Linked DNA regions of Homo sapiens. The protein of the gene in region 1 purifies or fractionates together with the protein of each later gene. This does not show direct contact. Each region holds a gene or a part of one and is shown on either strand. Other genes may lie near its edges.

Evidence for each region. Proteins that work in one complex are often made in the same cells at the same time.
Region 2: the proteins of UBXN6 (region 1) and POR purify together in Homo sapiens (affinity purification with mass spectrometry; 4 studies listed by BioGRID and IntAct, with this or other methods). This does not show direct contact.

Annotation. Positions count from the first base shown.
Region 1 is NC_000019.10:4,447,574-4,455,041, forward strand, and holds part of UBXN6 (UBX domain-containing protein 6), read right to left. Parts: intron 6,521-7,468; coding exon 6,357-6,520; intron 5,950-6,356; coding exon 5,885-5,949; intron 4,920-5,884; coding exon 4,791-4,919; intron 3,258-4,790; exon of another isoform or gene 843-3,257; coding exon 745-842; exon of another isoform or gene 53-744; coding exon 1-52. UniProt on the Homo sapiens protein: May negatively regulate the ATPase activity of VCP, an ATP-driven segregase that associates with different cofactors to control a wide variety of cellular processes.
Region 2 is NC_000007.14:75,910,462-75,918,323, reverse strand, and holds the start of POR (NADPH--cytochrome P450 reductase), read right to left. Parts: upstream 3,170-7,862; 5' UTR 3,145-3,169; exon of another isoform or gene 2,557-3,144; intron 1-2,556. UniProt on the Homo sapiens protein: This enzyme is required for electron transfer from NADP to cytochrome P450 in microsomes. It can also provide electron transfer to heme oxygenase and cytochrome B5.

The DNA of each region.
Region 1 (7,468 bases):
GATCTTCCGGTACTTCTCCTCCTCGGGGTGCAGGTGGATGTTGTCCAGGTACCTGGGGTAGGTGGAGAAGGTGAGTGGGGCACAGCCCAGGCTGCCCACCCGGCCCCTCTGTGCCTCCTGCTCCAGGTAACAGCAGCTCAGCCACACTTGGCCTCTAGTCAGAGGGAAGAAGCGGCCCAGTGACGCGAGGGCAGCAGACCATCTCCGGGTGGAAGGCACACCTCGGACACCCCATGGAGCCCACCCCTGGTGCCAGCAGGAGCCCCACGGAACCCCTCACCGTCCCACCAGCCCTGGAAGGGCACAATTAACCACAGCGGTGGGGAAGCCACAGTGCCGGAAGAGTGGAGAGCCAGAGCTGAAGGGCCGCAGTGCCAGCAGGGGGCTCCTGCGGGGTGCTCCCTCGGCGTTGGCGGGCAGCGTGGACCTCCAGGCCTGCCCCCGATCCTGAGACCCGGGGAGTGGGGTGGGACCCTGCCTCCTCCACATGTTCCCCAAGGAAGCCAGGGTGGGAAACCCCTGATTCCTTCAACACCTTCATTTTGCACACGGGTAAACTGAGGCCCAAGGAGGCCCAGCCCTTTGCCTGAGGCCTCTGGGTGGAGCTGCCTCACTCTCGGCCTATGCTCCTTCCCAACCCACCTCAGCAGGTAATGAGGGGGCCAGAGGGGGTGACAGCCCCAGTGGGAGGGGTGCTGGGATGAGCTGGAGGGGCCAGGCAGGGCAAAGGGGCCACACGCTCACTTGGCAATGGTGTCCACACCCAGCTTCACCCGGTCCTGGTCTTTGTTGAACGTGTAGATCTTCATGATGGAGGCGGCCACTGGGTCGGTGGAGAAGTGCTGGGAGGAGGGAAGCAGGGAAAGCCACTCACTGAGAGCCCGGGCCGCACGGCCCTCCGCTGCCCAGGTAACAGGGGCAGGAAAAGGAAGGCAGAACAGCGGCTTGGAGCGGCCCCAGCTGTGCGCTCATCACAGAAAGGAAAAGAGAGACCCTCCAAGACCGCAGCCCTGCCCACGCCCCAGGGCAGAGGCGACGCAGCCAAGACCCAGCAGAACTCAAGTCTCCCCTTCCGCCTTCTCAAGGCTAGATCCATGGGACTTGGAAGCCAGTGTGACGCGACAGAACTGTGCCTCACACTCTGGCTTTAGAACTCGACCTCAGTGCTGAGATCCATCAAGGCCACCGCCACTTACAGAACCTCCCGCCACCATGGACGCCCCATCCCTCCTGCTCTCGCAGCCCCATGATGGACGTTCTGGAACCACTCCCGGGCCTCATGTTTACAAAGAGACCGAGAGGCCCATCGTCCAGGGTCACAGGGATGGCAGGTGGCAGAGAGGACACAAATGAGTCTGCAACCCTCAATGTCTGAAACTCAATAGCTGGAAGACGGATACCCCCAGCCCCTGCCCCTCCCCGAGGTCCCACCTATCCACCTATGTTACCGGGGGAGGGGAGAAGTCATAGCTGGAACTCTGGGGGTTTCCCAGAACCAGCCCTGCTGACTGCGAACAGCGTCCCAGCATGGAGAGGCTGAGAACAGTACGTACCCTAAGACCTGGAAAAGATTGGGGCACAAATCCACGCTCGGCACAGCCATCACACACGGCCACACCCAGAGAGCCACCCATGGCCTGGGAAGCAGGGCTGCCACCCGCACCTCCCTGGGCTGCCCAGACGAGGGCGGGTGAACAGAAGGGCAGCCCAGGGCCATGTGTCAGGATTCGGGCCACCTGCCCAGGCAGCCCAGAGCTCCACCCACCACCCCCCACCCTCAACTGCACAGCAGGGTCCCTCAGCAGCCCCCTGCGTCACACGGACCAATGACCTACACACTGAGCCGGGGCTCATGCCAACTGAAAATTGGGACCCGGCCCAGTCTGCCGGTTTAGTTGCTGAGATGATGTGGGGAGCGGGACAGAGCACGTGGATGCAGAGAGGCAGAGCTGCCAGATGGGCATGTCCCCAAGACAACAGCTTCCTTGGGATCAGAGCGCCCGGGACAGCACACCAGCCAAGGGAAGCGTGTCAGCTCCAAAAGCGGGCCTCGGGCGTTTTGGGCGACTGGCTGCCAGGCTTAGGTCAGGAGCTGGGTACATGCACAGACAAGGGACGAAGGAACAGCAGCCAGGAAGGGGTCCAAATCCATACAGGAATGTACTTTGTGAGAAAGGTGGGATTTCACAGCTGTAAGCAAAAGACAGGTGCTCTCGACAGGTGGGGCTGAGAAGAAAGCTGAGCCAAGATCTAAAAAAAAAATTACATCAGCTCCATCCCACCATGTTACATAATAACATGCTCCAGCTGGATCAAAGCTTCAACCATGGAAACAAGCAAGCAGTCAAGGAGAAGCCAGAAGAAAAGCTCTGGAGGCCGGGCACGGTGGCTCATGCCTGGAATCCCAGCACTTTGGGAGGCCGAGGCGGTCGGATCACGAGATTAGGAGAGCGAGACCATCCCGGCCAACATGGTGAAACCTCATCTCTAAAATACAAAAGTTAGCCCGGGTGTGGTGGCGTGCACCTGTAGTCCCAGCTACTTGGGAGGCTGAGGCAGGTGAATTGCTTGAACCCGGGAAGCAGAGGTTGCAGTGAGCTGAGATTGCACCACTGCACTCCAGCCTGGTGACAGCAAGACTCTGTCTCAAAAAAAAAAAAAAAAAAAGCACTGGAGAGGCCACAAAAGAATTCTCTCAGCATGGAAATGGGGAAGGCATTTCTAAGAATGACCCCAAACCCAAAAGCCATGAACTAAAACTGACACATTTAATTATACAGAGATCAAAAAATCCTACACAGCAAAGTGACCATAAGCAGAGCCAACATAGAAGCAACTAGAGGGAAACATGTGCAACTCATATCATAGGCAAAAGCCTAAATTGCCTAATATGTAAAGAGTGCTGCCGGGCACGGTGGCTCCCGCCTGTAATCCCAGCACTTTGGGAGGCCGAGGCGGGCGGATCACGAGGTCAGGAGATCGAGACCATCCTGGCTAACATGGTGAAACCCCGTCTCTACTAAAAATACAAAGAATCAGCTGGGCGTGGTGGCGGTTCGCCTGTGGTCCCAGCTACTCGGGAGGCTGAGGCAGGAGAATGGTGTGAACCTCGTAGGCGGAGCTTGCAGTGAGCAGAGATGGCGCCACTGCACTCCAGCCTGGGCGACAGAGCGAGACTCTGTCTCAAAAAAAAAAAAAAAAAAAAAAAAAAAAGAGTGCCTACAAATCACTAATAAAAAGACAAACTATCTACTAAATAATGTAGAAAGGACGCATTCTCATATGAAACATGGCCAATCCAAAATAAGGAAAGTGCAAATTAACTCTATCCTGAGATGTTATTTTCACCTACCAACAGGCGTAAAGATCAAAGTTTGGTGATTTACAGTATGGTGAGAGGATGGGGACACGGGTGCTTTTGCACACACTGCTGGAGTGGGTGTGAGTCTGGAGAGTCTATGGAACTATTACTATTTTGTTTTGTTTTGTTTTTAAGATGAAGTTTCGCTCTTGTCACCCAGTGTCCACGCTGGAGCTCAATGGCGTGATCTGGGCTCACTGCAACCTCCACCTCCCAGGTTCAAGCGATTCTCCTGCCTCAGTCTCCTGAGTAGCTGGGATTACAGGCGCCTGTCACCACGCCTGGCTAATTTTTGTATATTTAGTAGATAGGGGGTTTCACTATGTTGACCAGGCTGGTCTTGGAACTTCTGACCTCAGGTGATCCACCTGCCTCAGCCTCCCAAAGCACTGGAATTACAGGCAAGAGCCACCGCGCCCAGCCACTTACTATTTTCTGAGAAAGGGTCTCACTTGTCACCCAGGCTGGTGTGCAGTGGCATGATTACAGCTCACTGCAGCCTCTACCTCCCAGGCTGAAGCAATCCTCCCACCTCAGCCTTCTGAGTAGCAGGGACTGCAGGTGCACGCCACCATGCCCAGCTATTTTTTTTTGTTTTTGGCAGAGACAGGGTTTTGCCATGTTGCCCAGGCTAAAGCCGAAGTTTCTGAGAACCTATTGATGGTGTTAAGTGAGGACTTGCTGTATTGGAAAAAAATGCTGTGGACGTTTTTATTTTTTGAGATGGAGTTTTGCTCTTGTTGCCCAGGTTGGAGTGCAATGGCGCTATCTCGGCTCACCACAACCTCTGCCTCCTGGATTCAAGCAATTCTCTTGCCTCAGCCTCCCGAGTAGCTGGGATTACAGGCATGTGCCACCATGCCTGGCTAATTTTGTAGGAAGTTCTTTCTGTATTGAAGCAAATAATACTTAACCTTTTATGAAAAACAACCAGGCCACGCGTGGTGGCTCACGTCTGTAATCCTAGCACTTTGGGAGGCTGAGGCGGGTTGATCACTTGAGGCAAAAGTTCGAGACCAGCCTGGCCAACATGGTGAAACCCCATCTCTACTAAAAATACAAAAATTAGCCAGGCATGGTGGCAGGTGCCTGTAATCCCAGCTACTTGAGAGGCTGAGGCACGAGAATCGTTTGAATCCAGGAGGCGGAGGTTGTAGTGAGCCGAGAATGCGCCACTGCACTCCAGCCTGGGTGTCAGAGTGAGACTCCATCTCAAAAAAAAAAAAAAAGACACCTAGTTGGGAGAGAGGAGATACAGATGCATACACAATGGTGTGCCTGGATTTGGGGTATCAGAGGAGGGGCTTCACTACTAGCAGTGGCCTCTGGGGACTCTGGGAGGGATCTGTACCACCTGGGCTTCCGATGGAGGGTGGCTCAGGCACAGGAAGCTACAGGTTGGGGCAGGAGCACACAGGGTGCCACTCACCAAGAGAATGGCCTCCTTGATGCAGGCGTCCCGCTGGTCCTTCCTCAGGGTGGCCCCAGTGAGCGGACAGGTGAAGTACACGCCAGGCACAGCCAGGTGGGCAGAGCCTTCCTCTCTGGGCTCAGATACCTGGGGCGGTGAAAGCGTCCAAGTCTGGACCGTGGACAGAGGCCACCCCGACCCTCGCCGAGCACCACAGTCCTGAGTGTGGCCCGTAGAACCAGACATCTCCAGCCCCCATGCTGTCCCTTCCACCTGGTGGCCGTGGGAGACACCCTGGCCAAGTGACCGGATCCCCGAGTCTTTTCCCTGGTATGTCAAATGTCCCTGTGGGGCCTGCTCAGAACTAAACGAGGTAAGGAACGGAAAGTACGGAGCAGCTTCTGACACGCAGGAAACACCCAGCAGATGGCAGCTGGGTTCCTGCTGGTCCTGTCCCCAAGCTGTTGAGGAAGGAGCTCTGTGTGGGTGTCTGCGGGCACAGTGCGCTGGACAAGGCATGACTTCTGGGCCTCCATTTCTAGGCCATCTCTAAGGTCCCTGCGTGCTAAAATTCACTGAATCCTCGAGGGTCAAGCTGCTTAGAACTCCTTTCAGCGGAGCTCTGAAGGCCCACCTCCTAGAGGAAGGCCTCCCTGATTCCACCCGTCTCCACAGAGCCTCTTGACCTCCAAGGCAGGCAGGACTGGGCAGTGCTAGGGGACAGGCTCTGAAACCACAGACTGGCTCTGGTCCTGCCTTTGCTGGTCCTGGGGTGTAGGAGAGAGGACAGCTGGTTTCACCTCTCTCAACCCCGGTTCTCTTTTTGAATAGTGGAAACTGTAACTGCATCTGCCCTTAAGGGGTTAAGGGGAGGGAGCGATGGGCTCGTGTACCTGAGGCCCACTTCTCCAGGCCTGAGCCGGCATCCTCAGCTGCCGAGCCCCGAAGGTCCCAGACAACACCGTGTTCCACCACAACCTGTGTCCACCTTGCAAGGCAAGGTTTTCCAACAGCCCTTGAGCCCCAAGGGCAGAGGCCACATCTCCCCCGTGACACAGTCAAGCTGTCCCCACCCCTTGGCATGGGACAGTGCCACCAGTGGCTGTTCTTACCACGTTGGTCCCTGGGGCCTCGGGGCTCCCGCTGACGGTGGCTTCGGCTTGAAGTTCCTTTCTCACTGGAAGGCAGCCCAAGAAAGAGAGGCAGAGACGGGATAGTGAGCACGCCGCTGTCCTGGCCCAAGCCCCCTCATTCCCGGGGTGGGCCTGGGGGCCACGCACACCGCCCCAGCCTGCTTCTGCTGGAGGTCAGGCTGGAGGTCCCCTGCAGGACTTGCTGTGCAGCCACCCCTCAGCCTGAGCAAGCACCCCACTGCCTGGGCAGCCCGTTTCTGCTCCAAGTCTCTGCTCCCACCCCCTCCCCAGGAAGCTGCCCTTCCCCCAGCACCTGCCCTTGATGAGCCGCTCCCAAGGGTGACCCTCACACCCCCACGGTTGCTCATGTGACTTCTGCATCCAGGGCCAGGCACCAGGGCCGAGAACCTCAAACAGCCCCAACCTGGGCCCGAGGAGGGCCATATCTCACCCTGGTTTCGGATGGTGTCCTGCGATGTGGGGCCCCAGGCCCGGGACTGCTTCTGCTCCAGCCGGGCTAGGGCGGCAGCGGCTGCCATCTGTGCCTCATTGGTGGGTCCCTGGCGGGGCGGCCTGGGGGCTGGCTGGTTGGGCTTCTCTTTGTGGGCCTTTTCCCTGGGAACAGACCGAGGGAGAGTGAGTGTATCCTCCCGAGGTGGCCGGCAAAGCTGACGTGCAGTCACACAGAGGAGCTTCTGCCCCTCCCCAGCACCATCAGCCAGACGTGTCCCTGCCTATGTGGGCCAGGACACCTGGTTCCCAGGGGCCACCTGCAGCCACCAGATGGTTCTACTGCAGGCGGAAGAGCCCCTGGAGGAAGGAGATGCTGGTTCCACTCAGCTCTGCACCATCGGGCAAGTCCTGCCCCCACTGGCCCTCAGCGTCCTCATCTGTAAAATGGGGTGACAGCACCCCTCCTGAGGTGAAGGCACCTTGACATCCTCAGTGCTTTTTTTCTTTTTGAGACAGGGTCTTGCTCTCTCACCAAGGCTGGAGTATAGTGGCACGATCATGGCTTACTGCAATCCTGAGCTCCCAGGCTCAAGGAATCCTCCCGCCTCAGCCTCCCAAGTCGCTGGGACTTAGAGGCAAGCATCATCATGCCTGGCTAATTTTTCTATCGAGACAGGGTCTCGCTATGTAGCTCAGGCTGGTCTCGAACTTTTGCCTCAAATGATCCTCCCACCGTGGCCTCCCAAACTGCTGGGATTATAGGCATGAGCCACAGCACCCAGCCCGCATCCTCAGGAATTGAGGAGACTCAAGGGGTGTCACATCCTCCCTCCCTCCCTGCCATAAGACTCTCCACCCTCAGGTCACAGCTTCGTTTGCTGAGCACCTACTGTGTGCCAGGACCCTGCTGGGAGCTGGTCGGCTCGCTTGGTTTACTCCTCCTAACAAGCTGCCAGGGAGGCCTCACCATCCCATTCCTAAACCCAAGAGGGACAGGAAGTCCGGGCGATGTGCCCCATGCCACGCCACCCTCGTGGCGGGACCCTGGGGAGAGCGGACAGCAGAACCAGCCTCGCCCTGGCCACTCCATGCCAGGCCTAGGGCTGTGCA
Region 2 (7,862 bases), on another chromosome or scaffold:
TTTTGGGTTTTTTTTTCTGAGACAGAGTCTCACTCTGTCACCCAGGCTGGAGTGCAGCAGCACGATCTCGGCTCACTGCAACCTCCGCTTCCCAGGTTCAAGTGATTCTTCTGCCTCAGCCTCCTGAGTAGTTGGGATTACAGGTGCACACCACCACACCGGCTAATTTTTGTATTTTTAGTAGAGACGGGGTTTCACCACGTTGGCCAGGCTGGTCTCGAACTCCTGACCTCAAGTGATCTGCCTGCCTCGGCCTCCCAAAGTGCTGGGATTACAGGCGTGAGCCACCATGCCCAGTCAATTTTTGTATTTGTATTTTTTTTATAGAGACAGGGATTCGCCGTGTTGCCCAGGCTGGTCTCAAACTCCTGGACTCAAGCAATTCACCCACCTTGGTCTCCCAAAGTGCCGGAATTACAGGCGTGAGCCACTGTTCCCAGCCTAGAATTGGCATTTGAAAGTCTTTTAAGGCTGTAGCCACCTGGGAGGCTGTGTGCTAATGAGCACAGAATCTTTGGCCAGGTGGTGGGTACTCGAAATTCCAGCTACTCAGGAGGCTGAGGCAGAATTCAAGCAAGGAAAATTGCTTGAACCTGGGGGAGGTGGAGGCTGCACTGAGCCCACTGCGCTCCAGCCTGGGCGACAGAGCGAGACTCCATCTCAAAAAAAGAAAAGAAAAGAAAAGAAAATTGTCATTTCTCCATTTCACCTTTTTCTAACTTTAATTTTTAAGTGAGTCTGACATATAACAGAAAGTTAAATCCCAACATGCTCAATTGAGGCCACACACGGTGCTAGTGCCAGAGCTTGACCTCTGTTTCTCTGGCTCCTCCCTAAAGCACAAGGACATCGAAGCTCTTGTAGGGGCGGCCAGCCTCTCTGGAACCATGAAAGGTCCTATAACTTCAAGAGCTTCCATCAGAAAAAAAAAAAAAAAAAAGAAGAAGAAATAAGAAAGCCAGGAACGGTGGCTCACACCTGTAATCTCAGCACTTTAGGAGGTCAAAGCAGGAGGACCACTTGAACCCCAGAATTCGAGACCAGCCTGGGCAACATGGCAAACCAAATCTCTAAAAAACATTTAAAAAATTAGCTGGGTGTGGTGGTGCGTGCCTGTACTCCCAACTACTTGGGAGGCTGAGGAGGGAGGATTGCTTGAATCCTGGAGGTTGAGGCTGCAGTGAGCTATGATTGCGCCACTGCACTCCAGCCTGCACGACAGAGTGAGACCTGTCTCACAAAAAAAAAAAAGTTACTTAAAAGCTAAATTATTTTTAACTTGAAATGTTCCATGGACTTCACGAGTAAATGTTCTGGATTTGCCAAGCAGTTTTGATTTCAATTGGCCTGTCTCCTAATCATACACAGACTTACCTAACACAGATTCTGATTTTCAAGGGGTTAAGGGTGGATCAACCCAGAGTTAACCAACAGCAGGTCCTAAAATTCAGGTATGTCTGGCAGCAAACATCCTCTGTGGCATTTATAAACTCCTACTACCCAGGACGATCCACACCTGATTTACATTGGCTGCGGTCAATGCTGCTGTTTTCAGGAATATCCCTGGGTTGTTTCATTTCAAATCTACCTATTATTTCTTCAAGTGCTAGACCTGAAGAATTTTGGAAAATTAAGATCACTCCTAAGTTTCCACACCACCACGCAACTGGCAGCTAGCATCCCATTCTCTGAAATGCGGATGTTGTACAAATACTTTTTATAATAAGCTATCTGCTCAGCGAAAGTTTCCAACATTAGATGGCATGAAGGTCATAAGTAGCTCAAAAACCACTCTCTTAAAAGGAAAATAAGAACTCCTAAAACAGCCCTCCTCCCAAAAAAAAGGAAGTGGACCTTTCTGGGTTCCCTGGTTTACTAACTGGGCCTTTGGAGCTGTTCTCCTGACCAAGCCAACCCCATAACCACTCAAAAGGGATTTCCGTAGGTAGAACTTGCAAATGGTTAATGAATCAATGCCTTCTCCATAAAGCAAGACCCAAGGAATTACAGCAGTGAACAACGGTGGGGATACTGGATCCCCCAGAGGGTTCCATAAACGTTCTGCTTACAAGGAGGATTAAAGTTCTCGATGCCACTCTCTGGGACCCTGTCTTGATCCTCAGAATCTCAACCCTGTGGGGAGAGCAGGGTGGCTGTCTTACTACCAGACCCACTGATCAGAAAACGGAGGCTCCAGGAGGTATCTTGCTTGCCAAGAATCAAACCAGGGCCACCCAGTCCAGTCCTGTCTCCTTTTGTGCTGGCATCATTCTCCAGCTTGGCCAAGCTCAGAGGCAAGGCAAGGCAAGGCTGCAGCTTTAAGGGTTTAAGAGAGGAGACAGCCACTTTCATTGAAACAGCCCCAAACTCCTTATTAGTGGTCACCAGTTTACACAAGGGTAACTCGTTTTGAAAAACAATACGCAGAAAGTCGAAGTCAATCAAGCTCACTGAAACCTCTACTCTCCTCCCCCTGGCGCCCAAGAGACCTTGAACTCTTACCCAATTGCTCCCCCGATCTAAGGGTGTCCCGGCTCCCCCAGGAGATCCGGGTACCTGTGTTGTGGGGGCCGCCGAGACACCTGACTGCGAGGGGCACTGCCCTCAGGGATGCAGGCCGGGCTGGGGGGCTCCCGTGATCCATCGACTCAGCCCACCTGATGCTGCAGGGTTAGATTCGGGTCCCATGAGCATGCATCGAGCGCCTCTCACGTTAGGTACCCCCAGAATTCGCTGCCTCCCGAGGCCCATTCATCGTACAGATGGGGAAACTGAGGCTCGGAGAGTTAAAGTGGCTTAGCCCGTGGGGGGCGGCGGCGCGGGGACTGGACCCCGAGCCCTGAGATACCGAGCCCTAACCCTCAGCCGAGGGCCTGCCGGGCTCTCTCGGCCCAAGCTGTGGAAAAGTCGACCCTCAGGCCGCCGCGGGAGATCAGCTCTAGGGGAAGGGCGACGCGGAGGAGGGCCGGGGTGGGAGCCATGCCTTCCGCCCGAGCGTCGGGCCAGACGCGCAGTGCCCAGGCCCGAGGGCCCACCCCGACGCAGAGAGCCAGGCGGCCGCGGTGAACTGAGGCGCCCGGCAAACCCCGAGTCTTGGGGCCCGACCTCACCCACCCCGCCGTCGCCGCGAAAGATAGCACTCACCGCTGGCAGCCCGGCTGCTCTCTGCGGGCACCTGGGCAGGGCTCAGGCCCACACCACTGAGGCGCTACCACCGCCTTCGCCGGCCGCGGGGGTGGGGGCGTGGCCATTGGGCCGCCGCCCCGCCCACTCGAGCCGCGCGTGCATTCCCGGAGCCCCGCGCTTCCCCCTGCAAATTTGCGCTCTTGGTACGGCCCGGCCCGGCCACGCCCCCTCGCGGCTCGGCTGGGTCGCCCGGCAGAGAAATGAAAGTGCGTGGTTCCGGGGGTGGCGGAGTCGCCTGGAGACGGCGGCTGCGGCTTCTACAGCTCGGACCCTGCAGGTCACCGGGCCGGCTGCCCACCTTCCCGGGGATCACTGCAGAACTGTGGCTGTGCGCCCGCCGGTCTAGCCTCCTCCTTCGGGCCGCCGCTTGCTTGTGATCGCCACATTGTCTCCTCCACGGCCCTGTTTCCTCACCTGAAATTGGCGAGGCTTCAGGCCCAAGTCGTCTCCCTGGGTTCCCTCCATCCAGCCTGACGGCGGAGGGCGCGCGTTTGTTTTTAGAGACAGGGTCTCGTTCTGTCGCCCAGGCTGGATTGCAGTGGTGCAGTCACAGCTCACTGCAGCCTTCAACTCCTGTGCTCAGGCGATTCTCCCACTTCAGCCTCCCAGTAGCTGGGACTACAGGCGCGCCACCACACCTAGCTAATTTTATTTTATTTTATTTGCAGAGATGCGGTCTCGCTATGATGCCCAGGTTGGTCTCGAACTGGTCTCAAGTGATCCTCCCTCCTCGGCCTCTCAAAGCGCTGCGATTACAGGCGTGAGGTCCCACACGCTGCCTAGAGCTCGCTTTTGAAGGCCGGCCTGTTGGGGGTGGGAAGTGACCAAGCAGGAGGCAAGCCCTGGATGGAAGAGGAGTGGGGGGATACAGAGAGCTTCTGGGGTTTGAAAAGTCTGGCAGCCTTGGTTGGGGAGTGAAGCCCACCTCTGCCTCCTGCTATGGTTTCTACTTTACAGGGTCATGAAGATTAAGTGGTATAACCTTTGTTCCTAAAGGATTTAGAGCACGGCATTACTAAGTGTTCTCATCGCCATTGTTATTATTACTACTACTACTATTATTACTAGCTGTGCTGTGAATTCCTTTTGCAACACTGTGCAACTCACTTCTCTCAGAGCCCCTTCTCCATCTTTTAAAAATAGCCCAGGCACGGTGGCTCACGCCTGTAATCCCAGAACTTTGGTAGGCTGAGGTGGGCGGATCACCTGAGGTCAGGAGTTCGAGACCAGCCTGACCAACATGGCAAAACCCCGTCTCTACTAAAAATACAAAAATTAGCTGGGCATGGTGGCGGGTGCCTGTAATCCCACCTACTGGGGAGACTGAGGCAGGAGACCCACTTGAACCCCGGAGGCAGAGGTTGCAGTGAGCCCAGTTCACACCACTGCACTCCAGTGTGGCCGACAGAGTGACACTCCGTCTCACAAAAAAAAAAAAGTTAATTTATAAAATAATACATAAATATAACATTTATATATTATATAAATGTTATATTTGTTATATTTATATATTATATAAATAATATATATTATATAATAACATATATGTTACTTATTTTTTGAAACAGGGTCTCCCTTTGTCGCTGAGGCTGGGATGCAGCCTCGACCTCCTGGGCTCAGGTGATCCTCCTGCCTCAGCCTCCCTAGTAGCTGGAATTACAGGCATGCGCCACCACAACTGGCTAATTTTTGTATTTTTATTTTTCATTTTAAAGAAAGTTGATTGAAATTTTTTTGTAGAGATGGTGTTTTGCCATGTTTCCCAGGCTGGTCTCAAACTCCAGACCTCAAGCAGTCCTCCCACCTTGGCCTCCCAAAGTGCTGAGATTACAGGTGTGAGCACTGCACCTAGCCTAATTTTTAAATTTTTTGTAGAGACAGAGTCTCGCTATGTTGCCCAACCTGGTCTTGAACTCCTGGCCTCAAGGGATCCCTTGCCTCGGCCTCCCAAAGTGCAGGAATTACAGATGTGAGCCACCATTCCCATCCACTCTTCATCTTTAAAATATTGTGAAAATAGCAAAATCCTATATAAAGAGATTATTACCATGGCCCAGGTGCCAGGTTTCCTATGTCCAGGAACCAGTCCCTCCAACAGGTTGGATGAATGCAGTAGCCCTCAGGGTGGGGCACAATACCTGTCCAAAGAAGGGACTGAACTCCACACTCACCCAGAGAGAGAGCTGTGGAGAAATTCACCCAGATATCTGATACTCTGTGCCATCTTTTCAACACCCTGTTGGACATCTCCCCAGGATGTCCCAGTGAGGCTTCAAATTTGGACTTTGACTCCATGCCCCCTGCTTTTTTTGAAACCAGAACTCCTAAAACACTGAGTCTTCTCTGTCTGCTAATAATATAGCATCACTAAGGAAACATCAGGAAACAGGCATTTTACCTCTTTGGCCTTTTCCCATTGAACCAATAACTGGGTCCTATGGATTCTATCTCCAGAACCTCCTCTTGTCATCTTTTCTGCTGTCCCTGTTCCAGTTGGGGCCACGTGGGTTCACCGTTCACCTGGATGATCTCAGCAGCTTCCTGACTTTTTTGGGGGGGATGGAGTCTCACTGTGTCACCCAGGCTGCAGTGCAGGGGCACCATCTCAGCTCACTGCAACCTCTGCCTCCTGAGTTCAAGCGATTCTCCTGCCTCAGCTGCCTGAGTAGCTGGGATTACAGACTTGTGCCACCACACCCGGCTAATTTTTGTATTTCTAGTAGAGATGGGGTTTCACCATATTGGCCAGGCTGCTCTCGAACTCCTGACCTCAGGTGATCCATCTGCCTTGGCCTCCCAAAGTGCTGGGATTACAGGTGTGAGCCACCGCACCTAGCCGGCTTCCTGACTGTTTATGTCACTTCTCGTTTCTGCTACACCCACTGGCAAGGAAGCCTCTTTTTTTTTTTTTTTTTTTTTTTTTTTTTTTTGAGACAGGGTCTCACTCTGACACCCAGGCTGAAGTGTAGTGGTGAGATCTAGGCTCACTGCAACCTCCACCTCCTGGGTTCAAGCGATTCTCCTGCCTCAGCCTCCTGAGTAGCTGGGATCACAGGTGTGCACCACCACACCTGGCTAATTTTTGTATTTTTAGTAGAGACGGGGTTTTGCCATGTTGGCCAAGCTGGTCTCGAACTCCTGACCTCAGGTGATCCATCCTCCTCAGACTCCCAAAGTGCTGGGATTACAGGCGTGAGCCACCACACCGAGCTGAAAGCTTCTCTTCTTCAGTTACTGTCCTCCTCATTGTCCTACCTTCCTCTCCTTCCCTCCCCACCCCCACCCCGAAAAAACACTCTCGCTGGCCAGCTGGGGGGAAAAAAAGTAGGTTGCATCCACATCTCACATATTACACTAATATAAATTCCAGATAGATAAAATATTTAAATGATTTTTTAAGGGAGAAGGAAAAAAAAAGCCCCCAAAAGTCCATGGGAGAATTGGTGTTAATAATCCCCAAGAGGCATTTCTAAATTATGAAATTATGACATAAACTCCAGAAGCCATAAATGAAAACATTGAGAAATAATCTGGGCTGGGTACAGTGGCTCACGCCTGTCATCCCAGCACTTTGGGAGGCTGAGGTGGGAGGATCGCTAGAGCCCAGGAGTTCGAGATCAGCCTGGCCAACATGACGAAACCCCGTCTCTACTAAAAATACAAAAATTAGCTGAGCATGGTGGCACATGCCTGTAGTCCCAGGGGTGGCTGAGACAGGAGAATGGCTTGAACCCGGGAGGCAGAGGTTGCAGTGAGCTGAGATTGCGCCACTGCACTCCAGCCTGGGTAACAGACTGAGACTCCGTCTCAAAAAAACAAAAACAAACAAACAAGGGGCCGGCAGGGCACGGTGGCTCACACCTGTAATCCCAACACTTTGAGAGGCCGAGGCAGGCAGATTACTTGAGGTCAGGAGTTTGAGACCAGCCTGGCCAACATGGTGAAACCTCGTCTCTTAAAAATACAAAACATTAGCTGGGCGTGGTGGGCGCCTGTAATCCCAGCTAGTCGGGAGGCTGAGGCAGGAGAATCGCTTGAACCTGGGAGGCGGAGTTTGCAGTGAGCCAAGGGTGCACCACTGCACTCCAGCCGGGGTGACAGAGTGAGACTCTTGTCTCAAACAAACAAACAAACAAGGAAGGAAGCTCATTGCTTAAACAGAAAAATCTCTGAGACAAATTGATAAATATGCAAGGTACAGAACAGTAGGTATAGAATGTTACCGTTTGTATGTTCTCAAACAATTGTGGTGGGAAATGAGGGAAGAACATAGATACTAGGTATACATATTTGCCTGTATGTGCATGAAATACCTCCTGAAACAAAAACAAAAACAAAAAAAAAAAAAAGGGAGGGAGGTAAGGTTGGTTGTCTCTGGAGAACTGGGAGGAGGGAGACCAGGGGCAAAGGAATATATTTCACTATATACTACTCTGTATCATTCAAATTTTGTACCTTATGAATGTATTACTTATTCTAAGTCAAATACATAAATACCTTTTTTTGTTTTAAATTAGAGACTGGGTTTTGCTCTGTCGCCCAGGATGGAGTACAGTGGCATGATCATGGCTCACTACAACCTCTGCCTCCTGGGCTCAGGCAATCCTCCCACCTCAGCCTCCGAGTAGCTGGAACTACAGGTGAGCACCACCACACCTGGCTAATTTATTTTTTAT